Homo sapiens: one gene and its partner. The protein of the gene in region 1 purifies or fractionates together with the protein of each later gene. This does not show direct contact. Each region holds a gene or a part of one and is shown in the gene's direction. Other genes may lie near its edges.

What was found. The genes of interacting proteins can lie anywhere in the genome.
Region 2: the proteins of LLGL2 (region 1) and PARD6B purify together in Homo sapiens (affinity purification with mass spectrometry; 9 studies listed by BioGRID and IntAct, with this or other methods). This does not show direct contact.

What each region holds. Positions count from the first base shown.
Region 1 is NC_000017.11:75,563,550-75,570,698, forward strand, and holds part of LLGL2 (LLGL scribble cell polarity complex component 2), read left to right. Parts: intron 1-202; coding exon 203-257; intron 258-803; coding exon 804-958; coding exon of another isoform or gene 959-993; exon of another isoform or gene 994-1,174; intron 1,175-4,926; coding exon 4,927-5,144; intron 5,145-5,222; coding exon 5,223-5,290; intron 5,291-5,428; coding exon 5,429-5,582; intron 5,583-5,671; coding exon 5,672-5,776; intron 5,777-6,413; coding exon 6,414-6,706; intron 6,707-6,798; coding exon 6,799-6,949; coding exon of another isoform or gene 6,950-6,961; intron 6,962-7,149. UniProt on the Homo sapiens protein: Part of a complex with GPSM2/LGN, PRKCI/aPKC and PARD6B/Par-6, which may ensure the correct organization and orientation of bipolar spindles for normal cell division.
Region 2 is NC_000020.11:50,734,580-50,741,579, forward strand, and holds part of PARD6B (partitioning defective 6 homolog beta), read left to right. Parts: intron 1-3,277; coding exon 3,278-3,500; intron 3,501-7,000. UniProt on the Homo sapiens protein: Adapter protein involved in asymmetrical cell division and cell polarization processes. Probably involved in formation of epithelial tight junctions.

The sequences.
Region 1 (7,149 bases):
GGCCAGAGAGGGTAAAGGCTTTGTCCAAAGCCACACAGCAGGGTTCGCCTCACCCAGTTTCTTGGGGAACTTCTCGGAGCAAGATTCCCAAGCACAGGTCTACCATGTGGATGTGGCATGAGCTAGAGGGATCTGTGCCTGTGGGGACTGACACTTGTCTGAGAGTTTGAGGATCCGTTCAAGCCGATTCCTTTCCTTTCAGGTCCCTTTCCTTGCAAAGCGATTACCAGAATCCTCTGGCTGACCACTAGGCAGGGGTAGGTATCCATGCTGGTCCTCTTTCCTCTCCAGAGCCTTCCTGGAGGGCTAGAAAGGTCACTTAGGCCTCTGCCTGGGAAGTTGGTGCCAGTGAACACTCTCAGGTCCCGTGTTGGGGTCTTGGACACCAGGGAGGGGAGACAGGGTAGACGCTATTCACGTCTCTCAGCGGCCCAATTCCTGCCAAGTTCATTCTTGCTCCTTTCTTCCACCTTCCCAGAGAGACGGTACTGAGCAGCAGGTCTTAAACTCCTTTAGTTGGCAGCCCTGTTTCTTCAGACAAAATCACTCTGGGTGATGTTCAAACAGAATTGGTGGGGGCACCCAGCATGAGGCAGGAGTGGCTGCTGAGACTCAGAGCCCCCAGCCTGGATGCCCTCACCTTACCTCCAAGTCCTCCTGGGCTGTAGCAGTTGGAAGGAGATGGGGTCCAGTCTCCCCTGCTCCTGGGGACCTTGACTGAGTGGTGACTTTGATTGCCGGCCTGTGGCTGTTGAGGCTGTGCCAGGAGCCCCAGCCCACTGCCGCTCCTCTGTGCCTGCCAGGTTGCCCTTCACCATCTTCCAGGGTGGCATGCCACGGGCCAGCTACGGGGACCGCCACTGCATCTCAGTGATCCACGATGGCCAGCAGACGGCCTTCGACTTCACCTCCCGTGTCATCGGCTTCACTGTCCTCACAGAGGCAGACCCTGCAGCCAGTAGGAGAGCTTCGGGAGTGGGTGCCCAGGGTTAGGTGTGGGAGGCATGGGGCAGGACCATCAGTAAAGACAGGGCCAGGTGCAGTGGCTCCTGCCTGTAACCCCAGTGCTGTGGGAGGCCAAGGTGGTAGGATCGCTTGAACCCAGGAGTTCAAGTCCAGCCTGGACAACGTAGGGAGACCCTTGTCTCTACAAAAAATAAAAAAATTAGCCAGGTGTTGTGGCACGTACCTGTAGTCCTAGCTACTCAGGAGGCTGAGGTGGGAGGATCACTTGAGCCTGGGAGGTGGAGGTTGCAGCGAACCAGGATCATGCTACTGTACTCAGCCTGGGTGACATAGCCAGACTGTGTCTCAAAAAAAAAAAAAAAAAGGGCTCTGCACAGATGTTCCTAAGCCTACCACTGTCCTGAGTCCCTTAGCCTCACTGCACCCCAAGGTGCAGTGTCATCAAGCCCTACAGCTCCTTTCTCTGCCTCCCTGCCACCCTCCCCAGCTAGAGACCCAGCCCAGCCACACCTCCTGTCTGCCCCGGGCTCTCTGCCCTTTCCAGACTGTAATGGGACTTAGCCCACAGGGGGCTGATCTGTACTGTTGGATTTAACACCCACCCCGCTGAGGCAAGAGGGTCCTGGCTTAGAGATGGCAAAGCCCGCCTTCTGGGCAGGGCAGAAGGTGGCTGTGCAGCCTCCTGGAGCTCCAGCAGGACCGGCAGAGCCCTGAGTCAGCCTCGTAAATTGTGTGACAGGCAAGACCAGAAAGGGCTGATGTTGAAACCTGGAGAGGAGCCCTGCAGGAGCTCTCCAGGAGGGAGGGCCCTCTCCTAATGATGCTGGCCTGAAAGGGCCTGAGGCCGAAAGGTGAGGGGGCGGGGCTGTTCAGGACACCTGGTCTGTGTACTCACGGCCTCTATCTACCCTGTTCAGGGGAACCCCAAACCTGCTTTTCTTTCTTTCTCAGCCTCTCCTCCCTCCTCACACCCTGGATGCTGAGAGCAGGGCCCAGCTCTGCTCTTTCCACAACATTTGGGCCATGTTGGCACAGAGCGGGGGCCTCTTGGGCTATGGTGGCCACACTCCCCGGGCTAACTGAGTTACCTGATTCCCAGCGGAAAGGTCAGGAAGGGAGGGAAGAAACTTGCTGAGCTACAAATTCGAGACTGCTGGGGCTTTCTAGGACAGGCCACCTTCCTGCAATTGTCCCTCTGTGTCCCCAACTCCCCGCAGTCCCGCAGGCCAGGAGGTGGGTGCCTGATGAGCGGTGCTTCCCTCAGATGATATGTGGGCACCCTGAAGCTCTCACGTAATGGTTCTGCTGTGCCGGGTTGTGACCCAGCTGTCCTTGGTAGGCTCTCCTGTTTAATGAGCAACTGCTATATGCCAGGCCCTGTTCTAGAAACAGATGAGGCCCCTGTTCCCATGGAACTTAGATCTGAGTATGTGGACAGAGTGAGTAGGTTGCCAGATAATGTCAGAGGTAAGAAAAAAGCCAGGCAGAGGACAGCAGTGCTGGTTTAGACAAGGGTTGGCAAGGCCTCCCTGATAAGGGGACGTATTTGCGCAGACACGGAAGCAGTCTGATGGAAGGCTTGCCCTGTAGGGACCTGGGGTGCAGACTGAGCTGGGAGGGCTCTTGGCTTGCTCCAATGAGGTAGGGGCGAAGAGAGGGCAGAATGGCCCCCGTGCTGGTCCAGATGTGGCCAGCGCCAGATCGTATAGAGCCGTGGAGGCACGGTAAGGACTTGGGGTTTGAGGGAGATGAGGGCCCTGAGCAGGGGTGCCATGATCTAGCCTCTGCTCCAGAAGGATCTGTCTGGCTGCCATGTGGGGGACACGGAGTGGAGCAAAGACGGGAGCCCAGTGAGAGTCGAGGGAGAGGTGACCTCAGCTTGGGCTGCGGTGCAGGCCATGGGACTGGCAGGAGGTGGCTGGGGTTACGCTGTCTTTTCTAACATTCAGCATTGGCTCAGGGGCCAGGTCAGGGCTCACAGACTGTTGCTATAAAGGGCTGGGTGGCTTTCTTCCCCACAGCTACTCAGCCTAATGCCATTGCAGAGCACATGTAGCCATGGACAACACAAGGGGCGTATCCGTGTTCCAGGACAGCCATATTGACAGGAATAGGCAGGAGGCCAGATTTGGTCCTCAGGCTGTAATTTCTTGGCCCCTTGTCTAGGGAGAGGTAAACGAGGGGAGGAGAGATCAGTCAAGGATGACGTGAGGGTTTGCTGGGAGCACCAGGAATCCTGGAGAAGGTAGTGGCAAGAGGGTGCAGCAAGCTCAGCTGGGCGGGGATCAAGTCTGAGGACTTAATGTCTCCTCTGATCTCCAGACCCATAAGGGAGATGCTGAGTAGACAACTGGGGCTTATGGGTCTGGAGTTCAGAGGAGAGATCGGGAAGGTGTCCATTTGGAGTCATCCACGCAGAGATGTGTGAAGGCTGCTCAATGATTTTGAGGTTTAAAGAAAAAAAGAGATGTGAAACCAGGGGCCCTGATGAGGCTGCCCAGGTGGTAAGGAAGACAGAAGAGAAGCCATGGGACAGCTGAGCCCGGGCACCCTCAAGCCTTGGAGGCATGAAGTTTGGTGGGGATCTGGCAAAGAACACCTGGGAGCAGCCAGCGGGCAGCAGACCCCAGAGTAGCAGGGAAGACAAGCACTTCAAAGAGGCAGCGTCAGCCAGGGGCAGTGGCTCAGCTGTAATCCTAGCACTTTGGGAGGCCAAGGATGGCAGATCACCTGAGGTTAGGGGTTCGAGACTAGCCTGGCCAACATGGTGAAACCCTGTCTCTACTAAAAATAAAAAATTAGCCAGGCATTGGTGGTATGTGCCTGTAATCCCAGCTACTCGAGAGGCTGAGGCAGGAGAATCTCTTGAACCCGGGAGGCAGAGGTTGCAGTGAGCCGAGATCATGCCATTGCACTCCAGCCTGGGCAACAAGAGCGAAACTCCGTCTCAAAAAATAAAAAAGAAAAACAAAAATTAGCCAGGCGTGGTGGTGAGTGCCTGTAATCCCAGCTACTTGGGAAGCTGAGGCAGGAGAATCGCTTGAACCCGGGAGGCGGAGGTTGCAGTGAGCTGAGATCGCACCACTACACTCCAGCCTGGGTGACAGAGCAAGACTCCATCTCAAAAAAAAAAGAGAAAAAAAAGACTGGGCACAGTGGCTCATGCCTGTAATCCCAGCATTTTGGGAGGCCAAGGTGGGAAGATCACTTGAGCCCAGGAGTTCAACACCAGCCTGAGCAACATGGCGAAACCCTGTCTCTACCAAAAATACAAAAGTTAGCTGGGTATCGTGGCTCACACCTGTAATCCCAGCTACTTGGGAGCCTGAGGCAGGAGGATCGCTTGAACCTGGAGGTGGAGGTTGCAATGAGCCGAGATCACACCACTGTACTCCAGCCTGGGCGACAGAGTGTGAAACCCTGTCTCGAGAAAAGAAAAAAAAAAAAAAAGACAAATGGTTTAATCATCCAGCGCACATTTATTGAGCACTAGCTGGGTCCAGGCCTGAGTGAGGTGATGTGATTGTGTGCAGTAAAGAAAATGCCACCCCTAGCAACTGGTGTGCTGAAGACCACGCGTGCTGCTGCCTGTGGGGAGAGGCTTGACAGGTGCATCTGAGCAGGGAGAGCAGGCCCCATGGAGGAGAAACCAGGGAAGAGGGTTGGCAGGCACAGCTGCATGCCTCTGGGGTGCCTATCCTGGTTGGGACCCTGCCTTCCAGCCAGGTGTATCCCCCCAGGAGCCCTGTGCCAGGGAGCTCTCAGCAGCCTTGCATGCAGAGCCAGGGCTACTGCCCACACCTGCTGCCCTCCTGGAGATGGAAAGGCTTTGCTCAAGCAGCCAAGAACAGGGCTTTCTGGATCTGCAGATGCCCTGGCTCCAACCCTGGAGCTTCTGATTCCACAGAGCTGGGCTGCTTCCTCCTGGCCCCGGCCCCTGACCCTTGCCCTGTACCCCAGCCTTTGACGACCCCTATGCCCTGGTGGTGCTGGCTGAGGAGGAGCTGGTGGTGATTGACCTGCAGACAGCAGGCTGGCCACCGGTCCAGCTGCCCTACCTGGCTTCTCTGCACTGTTCCGCCATCACCTGCTCTCACCACGTCTCCAACATCCCGCTGAAGCTGTGGGAGCGGATCATTGCCGCCGGCAGCCGGCAGAACGCACACTTCTCCACCATGGTAGGTCTGGCCCTGGCCCCAGCCCCAGCCCCACCGCAAGCCAAACTCTCCCATGGACTTCTTGGTCTCTTTTTCTAGGAGTGGCCAATTGATGGTGGCACCAGCCTGACCCCAGCCCCACCCCAGAGGGACCTGCTGCTCACAGGGTAGGGTACTTTGATGCTACCCCACCTCTTCCCAGTAGGATATGTGGGGTGGGAGCAGAGCCCTGAGGTGGACGAGCCAGCCCCTGGGCATCCCGGCTGGCATCCCTCTCACGCCTGGCAGGTGGGTTCTGCCCACAGGCACGAGGACGGCACGGTGCGGTTCTGGGATGCCTCGGGTGTCTGCCTGCGGCTGCTCTACAAACTCAGCACTGTGCGCGTGTTCCTCACCGACACGGACCCCAACGAGAACTTCAGTGCCCAGGGCGAGGACGAGTGGCCCCCACTCCGCAAGGTGAGGCCAGGAGCCTGGGACCCAGGAAGGGCAGAGGCCAGCTGGGTCCTGTCCCCGTGGCTGCTCACAGGGCCCCTCCCCTTCTCCAGGTGGGCTCCTTTGACCCCTACAGTGATGACCCCCGGCTGGGCATCCAGAAGATCTTCCTCTGCAAGTACAGCGGCTACCTGGCTGTGGCAGGCACGGCAGGGCAGGTAGCAGGCTGGGCTGGGGAGGGGGAGCTGGGGAGGAGTGGTCGATGACTGGGGACAGCAGGGACAGGAGCCAACCACCTGCCTAACGCACATTCTGTGTCCTTTGCTTTTCCGGTGGATGGAGGTGGCTTGATCCCCTTGGCGGGAGGTCCCTGGGATGGTTGTTTCTTCTCCAGAAATCGGAATTAAGGGCTGGGCCGGGCACGGTGGCTCATGCCTGTAATCCCAGCACTTTGGGAGACCAAGGCAGGCGGATCACCTGAGGTCAGGAGTTCGAGACCAGCCTGGCCAACATGGTGAAACCCCATCTCTACTAAAAATATAAAAATTAGCCAGGCATTTGTGGCTCGTGCCTGTAATCCCAGCTACTGGAAGGCCGAGACAAGAGAATCACTTGAACCTGGGAGGCAGAGGTTGCAGTGAGCCGAGATTGTGCCACTGCGCTCCAGCCTGGGCAACAGAGCAAGACTTGTCTCAAAAAAAAAAAAAAAAAATGCAGGAGAGCTGGGGTTGGACAGAGGCCTTTGTCCTTCCTTGAGCCTTGGGCCCAGCTCCTTTGCTGTCCCCACTAGTAGCATCCTGCGGCCCTGCCGTCCCTTTGCTGAGGGCTTGCTGAGCCACCTGCCACCCTGCGCAGGTGCTGGTACTGGAACTGAATGACGAGGCAGCGGAGCAGGCTGTGGAGCAGGTGGAGGCCGACCTGCTGCAGGACCAAGAGGGCTACCGCTGGAAGGGGCACGAGCGCCTGGCAGCCCGCTCAGGGCCCGTGCGCTTTGAGCCTGGCTTTCAGCCCTTCGTGTTGGTGCAGTGTCAGCCCCCGGCTGTGGTCACCTCCTTGGCCCTGCACTCTGAGTGGCGGCTCGTGGCCTTCGGCACCAGCCATGGCTTTGGCCTCTTTGACCACCAGCAGCGGCGGCAGGTCTTTGTTAAGTGAGCAGGGGCGGCTGGGTCCCGGGGCTGGGAGTGGGGCCCGCGAGGACTCCCAGGACCTAGCAGCACTGACAGCCTGCCATCCCCCCAAGGTGCACACTGCACCCCAGTGACCAGCTGGCCTTGGAGGGCCCACTCTCCCGCGTCAAGTCCCTCAAGAAGTCCTTGCGTCAGTCATTCCGCCGGATGCGTCGGAGCCGGGTGTCCAGCCGGAAGCGGCACCCGGCTGGCCCCCCAGGAGAGGTGAGGCCTGAGGTGAGGCTGCGGCCGGCCACGCACCCAGGTTCGGCTCAGAGCAGCCAGCAGGGGGGCCACACGGCCCCTGCTCCCCAGGCTTGCTAGGCTACAAACAAGATTCAGGGTCCAGGTCGCATTGTGTGACCTCAGACAGGTCACGCTGCTTCTCTCTGCCTCAGCTTCCTGAGCAGAAAGGCAGTAACTGT
Region 2 (7,000 bases), on another chromosome or scaffold:
GAACACCTGAGCTCTAGTGATCCGCCCGTCTCTACCTCTCAAAGTACTGGGACTACAGGCGTGAGCCACTGCACCTAGCTGGTCCATTTTTCTCTTACTATTTTCAATTTTTTTTTATCTTTTTAGAGACAGGGTTTTGCCATGTTGGTCATGTTGGTCTCTAACTCCTGAGCTCAAGTGATATTCCCACCTAGGCCTCCCAAAGTGTTTGGATTATAGGCATTAGCCACCACACTGGGTTCCGGTCCATTTTTAGGATCTCTTTTTCTTCATATAAACAGTAATGTTGGCCAGGCATGGTGGCTCACACCTGTAATCCTAGCACTTTGGGAGGGCAAGGTGGGCGGATCACCTGAGGTCAGGAGTTCAAGACCAGCCTGGCCAACACGGTGAAACCCTGTATCTACTAAAAATATAAAAATTAGTGGGGCGTGATGGCATATGCCTGTAATCCCAGCTACTCCGGAGGCTGATGCAGGAGAATTGCTTGAACCTGGGAGGCGGAGGTTGCAGTGAGCCGAGATTGCGCCACTGCACTTCAGAGCCTGGGTGACAGAGGGAGACTCTGTCTCAAAAAAATAAAAAAATGCAATAAAGCAGTAGTGTCAACATTATTATCTTCACACGTGGAAGGGAAAAATAGTAATGATAAAAGAATGGAGAATGTAAATATACCTATAGTTCAATTTGTGGTACCAGCTAGTATGTGACTTTTCTTTGGTAACTGTTTTATCTTCCTAATTGTATCTCTAGTGTTGGGAAGATTCTTAATCAATAATCTTGATGATGTCCTTTAATAACCCTGGAACAGTCTTTGAGTCATAAAATTTCCTAATTATTATTCATAGGCAAATAGACTATGAAAATTAAGTTTGCATTTCTAGAATGTACCAACAGACACTGGGGGAAGGGAGTCCATACACATTCTGGATGGCTAGGGCAAACTAGGCTATGAAACAGTTGTAAATGGTTCACAAGTGAATAATTGCTGATTGAATCTTAATTTTGTCTCTTAGTGTTTTTGTTCATGTAAAAAGTTCCCTTAATCCTATTGTTGTGTTGCAAGAAGCATAACAATTTCTCTTGGGTTTTTTTTTCCCATGCCAATATTGGCAAAAGTGCAAATATACCATGAAGCCATACAATTTTTTATTGTTTTTATCATAACAGTTAAGCAAGAGAAAATATTGAGCGAAGAAATTTCATCCAAAAGCTTTAACAAAAACATTGAAGCCCTAAAATGTTAAATGATCAGATGTTATTCCCATTCATACATCAGGGGAAGTGATAAACCCTGTGGATGAATCAGCAAGCACTAGCAACTTCATGTTGTGATACCAGAATAAAGAAAATGGAGGAGAAACTGTGACTTTTGATAACATCATGAGACTAACTGATATGAAGGGTGTTCCCTGAGTTTTTATTTACTTTGAAATGTGAAGGTGTGACTAAACTTTTTGAGAGCCTTAGGTATGAGTCACCTTATTTTCTTGACAGATGTTAGTGTTTATGTTTCAGGAATGTGTTTTGGGAACTATTTTAATTTTTGTTAGAGGTAAGAGGTGTTTTTAGTGAGTTTTGATGTTAAAACCACTGAGGAGTATGGGTGTAAGCAGAGCAGGTGAACTTTAGATAGAGCAAAACCAGTGAATCCAGATGTCCCATGGGACCTTTGGGAAAATGAAGTGACATATTTGTAAACTCAAATTATTATGGTAGGGGCTTTCTCTACATGATGCTTAAGGCTGTACCAACAGTATTTCTCTTTTCCTTTTTTCTCTGGGACATAATATTTTTACATTAGTATTTCTTGCTAGTAATAGATAGGTGGAAGAAATATGAGTTCAGTGGTTAAACACATTAGGCAAACGTTCGTTTAAATATTTTTAAAAACCAACATAGGGCTTAAATGAGCCTTTAAAGTGCTGGTCTCCGCAGTGATTCCCAAGAGCATAATTATGTAGCGTTTCTCAAACTTACATGACTGGGACACTTTTTGAGGAAGGCAGATTAACTTTTCTTAGGTTTCCACGTTTGAGGAAATGCCATGTTATTCCCACAGTGTTATAAATCCTGTTTATCATGGACTAGATGAAGCCAGTCCTTAGTGTTTTGGTTTTTTTTTTTTTTTTCTTTTTTGAGACGGAGTCTTGCTCTGTTGCCCAGGCTGGAGTACAGTGGCATGATCTCGACTCACTGCAACCTCTGCCTCCCAGATTCAAGAGAGTCTCCTGCCTCAGCCTCCTGAGTAGTTGGGACTACAGGCATGTGCCACCACACCTGGCTAATTTTTGTATTTTTAGTAGAGACGGGTTTTGCCATGTTGGCTAGGCTGGTTTTGAACTCCTGACCTTGTGATCCTCCCGCCTCAGCCTCTCAAAGTGCTGGGATTACAGATGTGAGCCATCGCGCCTGGCCTCAGTTCTTAGTGTTGAATAAGAGTCACTTTTAATTATTTGACATTGGGAAAACAGAGGTGTAGGGAAACAGACTTCAGAATCAGAACTGTGAAGGTAAGTATTGGGCATGATGGAGGCTGTCTTCCTCCCCATTCCGCCCCATTTGTGTGATCTCTTAATACCTCCCTGAAGTAATTATTCTCTTTACCCACTAATTGGTGAGCTTCTGGAGCAGGCTCGAGGCTTTCAATCTCTAGGGCCTAGCACTGTGCCAAACACATAAACACTTTGTGCGTTAATTGGATAGTTATAGGACATACATTTGATGTATTACTGAAGCTTATTTTTTTCTGCATTAACATAGGGAAGATCATACCTTAACGCCACGTAGCTCACAGTTCTTTTTGTATATTTTGCTGTTGATTCTTACCACATACCATGAAATCCTAGTTCCATTTATGGGGGAGGACACTTAAATGCTTTCCTTTGGTCAAAATAAGGACTTGGACAAGTCTTTGGTACCCCATGATGCACCTGAGGAGAGCATTGCCGTCAGAGTCTGGGCTCCAGACAGGGTTTGAGCTGAGTCACTATGCAGAACAGTCCGCAGTAAGGCCTAGGTACCCCAGGGATAGATAGAGTTGAGCCTGCCTCTCTTGAAAGGAATGCTCTTCAGAGACACAGCAGTCAGGAGGCACATTCTTGTGCCTTTCTTAGGCTTTTTAAAATCCCTGATAGTAAGGTTCTTCACAATAGACAATCTTTCCTTAATTAAAAATACTTGCTCTGCTCGTTAATTTTTCTATGGCATGCATTTTCAAATTGGGTCCTTTTACTTTTTTTTTTTTTTTTAAGTAATATGTTTGTTACGTTTATAGTTTGGAGCTGAATTTCGTCGGTTTTCGCTGGAAAGATCAAAACCTGGAAAATTTGAGGAGTTTTATGGATTACTACAACATGTTCATAAGATCCCCAATGTTGACGTTTTGGTAGGCTATGCAGACATCCATGGAGACTTACTACCTATAAATAATGATGATAATTATCACAAAGCTGTTTCAACGGCCAATCCACTGCTTAGGATATTTATACAAAAGAAGGGTAAGTATCACTGTTTAGAAAAATTGTGTTAGAAATAGAAATAGTGTATTTTCCCCACTGAAAGGATACCCAGACTTTGCCACAAACTTAGTGAATAAACATTTTGTGTGAATCTTCTTATGTTAACTAACATGTGGGTTAAAACATTTGTGATATTGTTGGTTTAATTAATATCTTTATGCTTCACTAAGTGTACTTTAGAAAATTTATATTTCTAGTTACTTTTGTGTTAACCTCTTTGGTTTTATTTTTCCTTAAGTAGAAATTGGGAATTTATTGAATATTGGGAATTTATTGAATCTTCACTTTATCAAATGGATTATTCTCCACTCAGAAAAATGTGAAAAGAGTGTGACTTTGGAATCCAAAGCATTCCTGTTTTTTGGTGGCAACCAACTTTCAAAGGCTGTATTTACCAGTTAATAAATACCAGAAACAAAGCCATTTAATCTTCCTGAGTCTCAATGTCTGCACCTATAGAAAGATTATAATATTTTGTAGAATTACTATGAGGATTAAATGAGCTAAGTGCAGTGCCCTGGCTTATAGTAAGCACCCAGTAAATACTTTCTTTCTTTTACTTTTAGGATACTTTTTAAAGAAATTGTATAAAACTAGTTAATTATCTGGAAAATGAGGTGGGAAGTTACTATTGTGGAAGGATGTAAACACTGATATTAATTAGTCTTCCAAAAAAATTGAAATCACTATTTGGCAATAACTTTCTTTCTTTCTTTTTTTGTAAAGACTGGGTCTTACTATGTTGCCTGGTCTCCGGTGATCCTCCAGTCCCTGCCTCTCAAAGTGCTGGGATTATAGGCATGAGCCACCATGCTCAGCCAAGAATTTTCAAATGTATTTTGAGTCCTAAAACTTTTTTTTTTTAATCTCGTAGCCTTTGTGTGTGTATGTATGTGTGTCTGCAGATAGGCAGGGTAGGGCTTATTATGGTATGTACCATTTTTTCCTTTCTCAATTGTAAATGAAGTGGTTTGGGAAGCCAGCATGAGAGCATCAAGCCTGGTATTGGGATAAATTAAAGACTTACGGTATTTATAAGCCAACCCAGAAAGTAGCTTGAGAGCGGCCAGGCTTGGTGGCTCACGTGTGTAATCCCAGCACTTTGGGAGGTGGAGGCGGGCGGATCATCTGAGGTCAGAAGTTCATGACTAGCATGGCTAACATGGTGAAACCCCATCTCTACTAAAAATACAAAAATTAGCTGGGCATGGTGGCACATGTCTGTAATCCCAGCTATTCAGGAGGCTGAGGCAGGAGAATCAGCCAGGAGGTGGAGGTTGCAGTGAGCCGAGATCGTACCACTGCACTCCAGCCTGGGCAACAGAGCAAGACTCCTCAAAAAAATTTTTTTGAAAAGAAAGTAGCTTGAGAGAATGGGTGGGGATTATCTTTGAAGGTGAAAACTATTTCTAATCAGTTGATAAGCATTAGACCACTCCCAGGGCTCTGGAATTCCACTGATTATGTATCTTTGCTTTCCTGGGTTTGGAGGAACTAAAGTCCACCAACAAAATAAACCTCCAAGGATAACCTCTGCCTATATCACTTGACTATTTTACAAAATACTTTCACACACAAATTAATGTTCCCAAAGTTTCCTGAGATGGATCTCAAAGGTAATTAACAGGAATGCGATATAATGAGAGTATGACCTTAGGAAGATTCAGTTGGCTGTTCAGGATGAATTGGAGTGGGCAGCAGTCTTACAGTAGAGAGCCAGGAGCAGGCGGTAAAGAAGTGAGGAGACTGGCCTAGAAGTAGAGGGGAAGGGTGGGGGGAGGGGAGAAGGCAGTGGCGGGAAGGTAGGAGGGGAAATACTTGGGAGTCATTGCACTCACTGTGGCTGCTTTGCAGTGAAGGAGAGTCCAGCAGAGCATATCTTGATGGTTTGAGTCTGACAGCTGGGACAGTGTCATGAACAAGCAGAGTAGATTGATTTGGAAAAGAAAATTATGAATTTTGTCTTAGGACAAATAATCTTAACCAGTCATTCAGAAGATTAGAAATGGTAGACAAAAGTTCAGGGTAGAAATCCAAAAACTAGTTAGATTTGCAAGCTTTTTGAAAAGTGATAGTTAAAATTTTGGGAGTAGACATAAAGGCTATCTGAGATGAAGACCATGGATAGAACCTTGGAAAGCTATATATAGAGTGCTGGAAAAGGAGGAAGAATTTAAATAATTATGGTTGAATAATAGGCCTTTCTTGTTAGCAATTGTAATTTTCTTTAAAAAGTTAGTTGCTGTTTGGATGTGCATTCAAATATAGAGTGGGTTTTTAAAGTATTGCCATGTGACAGAATTTTGTTGGATTATCCCCTTTGGTAGAAAGATTATGACAGTTGAGTTATACCACCACATGTTTTGTTAATGGAATTATACTCTTGCATGATTATGGAATTAATCCTAACATCTTTTAAGGGTAGTTATCTTTTATTTCCTTTCTAAGTTTTTATTTATTGGTGGTATAATTTTTATTGAGACCTTTGATGGTTTTTATTGTTGTCATAGGAATTACAACTTAGAAATATGTTTCTATGTGCAAATGTTTTCTATTTATTAATGGTAAAATGTCCAATATAATTGATAGCCCTTAGAATTTGATTTAGAAATAGGCAATTCAACAGAAATATTTTAGATTTTAAAAATATAAATTTAATACAAATATGACTTTAGCAAAAATGAAAGTAGGTAGTCAGTTCATTCCTGCTTAAAACCCTCTGATGATTTCCCATTGCAACCAGAATAAAATCCCTTCTGATTTGGACTTCCCAACCTCATCTTCCCTCATTCTCTCACTCCCTCATCACAGTCAGCCACACTGGCTTCCTTCCTGTTCCTCAGACTTGATGAGCTTGTTTCTTTTTTTTTTTTTTTTTGAGATGGAGTCTTGCTCTGTCACCCAGGCTGGAGTGCAGTGGTGCAATCTCGGCTCACTGCAACCTCTGCTTCCCAGGTTCAAGTGATTGTCCTGCCTCAGCCTCCTGAGTAGCTGAGACTACAGGTGCATGCCACCATGCCTGGCTAATTTTTGTATTTTTAGTAGAGATGGGGTGTCACCATGTTGGCCAGGCTGGTCTCGAACTCCTGACCTCAGGTGATCCACCCGTCTTGGCCTCGAAGTGTTCTGGGATTACAGGTGTGAGCCACTGCACCCAGCCGTTAGCTTGTTTCTGTTTCTGTGCTCTTATGCTTGGTTATTCTTAAGGACACTTCACCCTCGGTTCTTCCCACGTCTGCCTCCTCCTGCTTAGCTCAGATAAGTTTGTCAGAGGAGTCTCTTCTGACTACCCTAACTAAAGCCCTCCACCTTCCCACCTTTACCACATCATCCTCTGAAGACCTGGAAATATCTTATTTAAGAATATGTTAACTTGTTTCCTGTCTGTCTGGTTTACCATCAGGTCGCAGCATCTAAATCTGGCAGACTTACTTAGTGTACTATAATGCATGCACTCTTTTTTTTGTGGAGTGGGGACG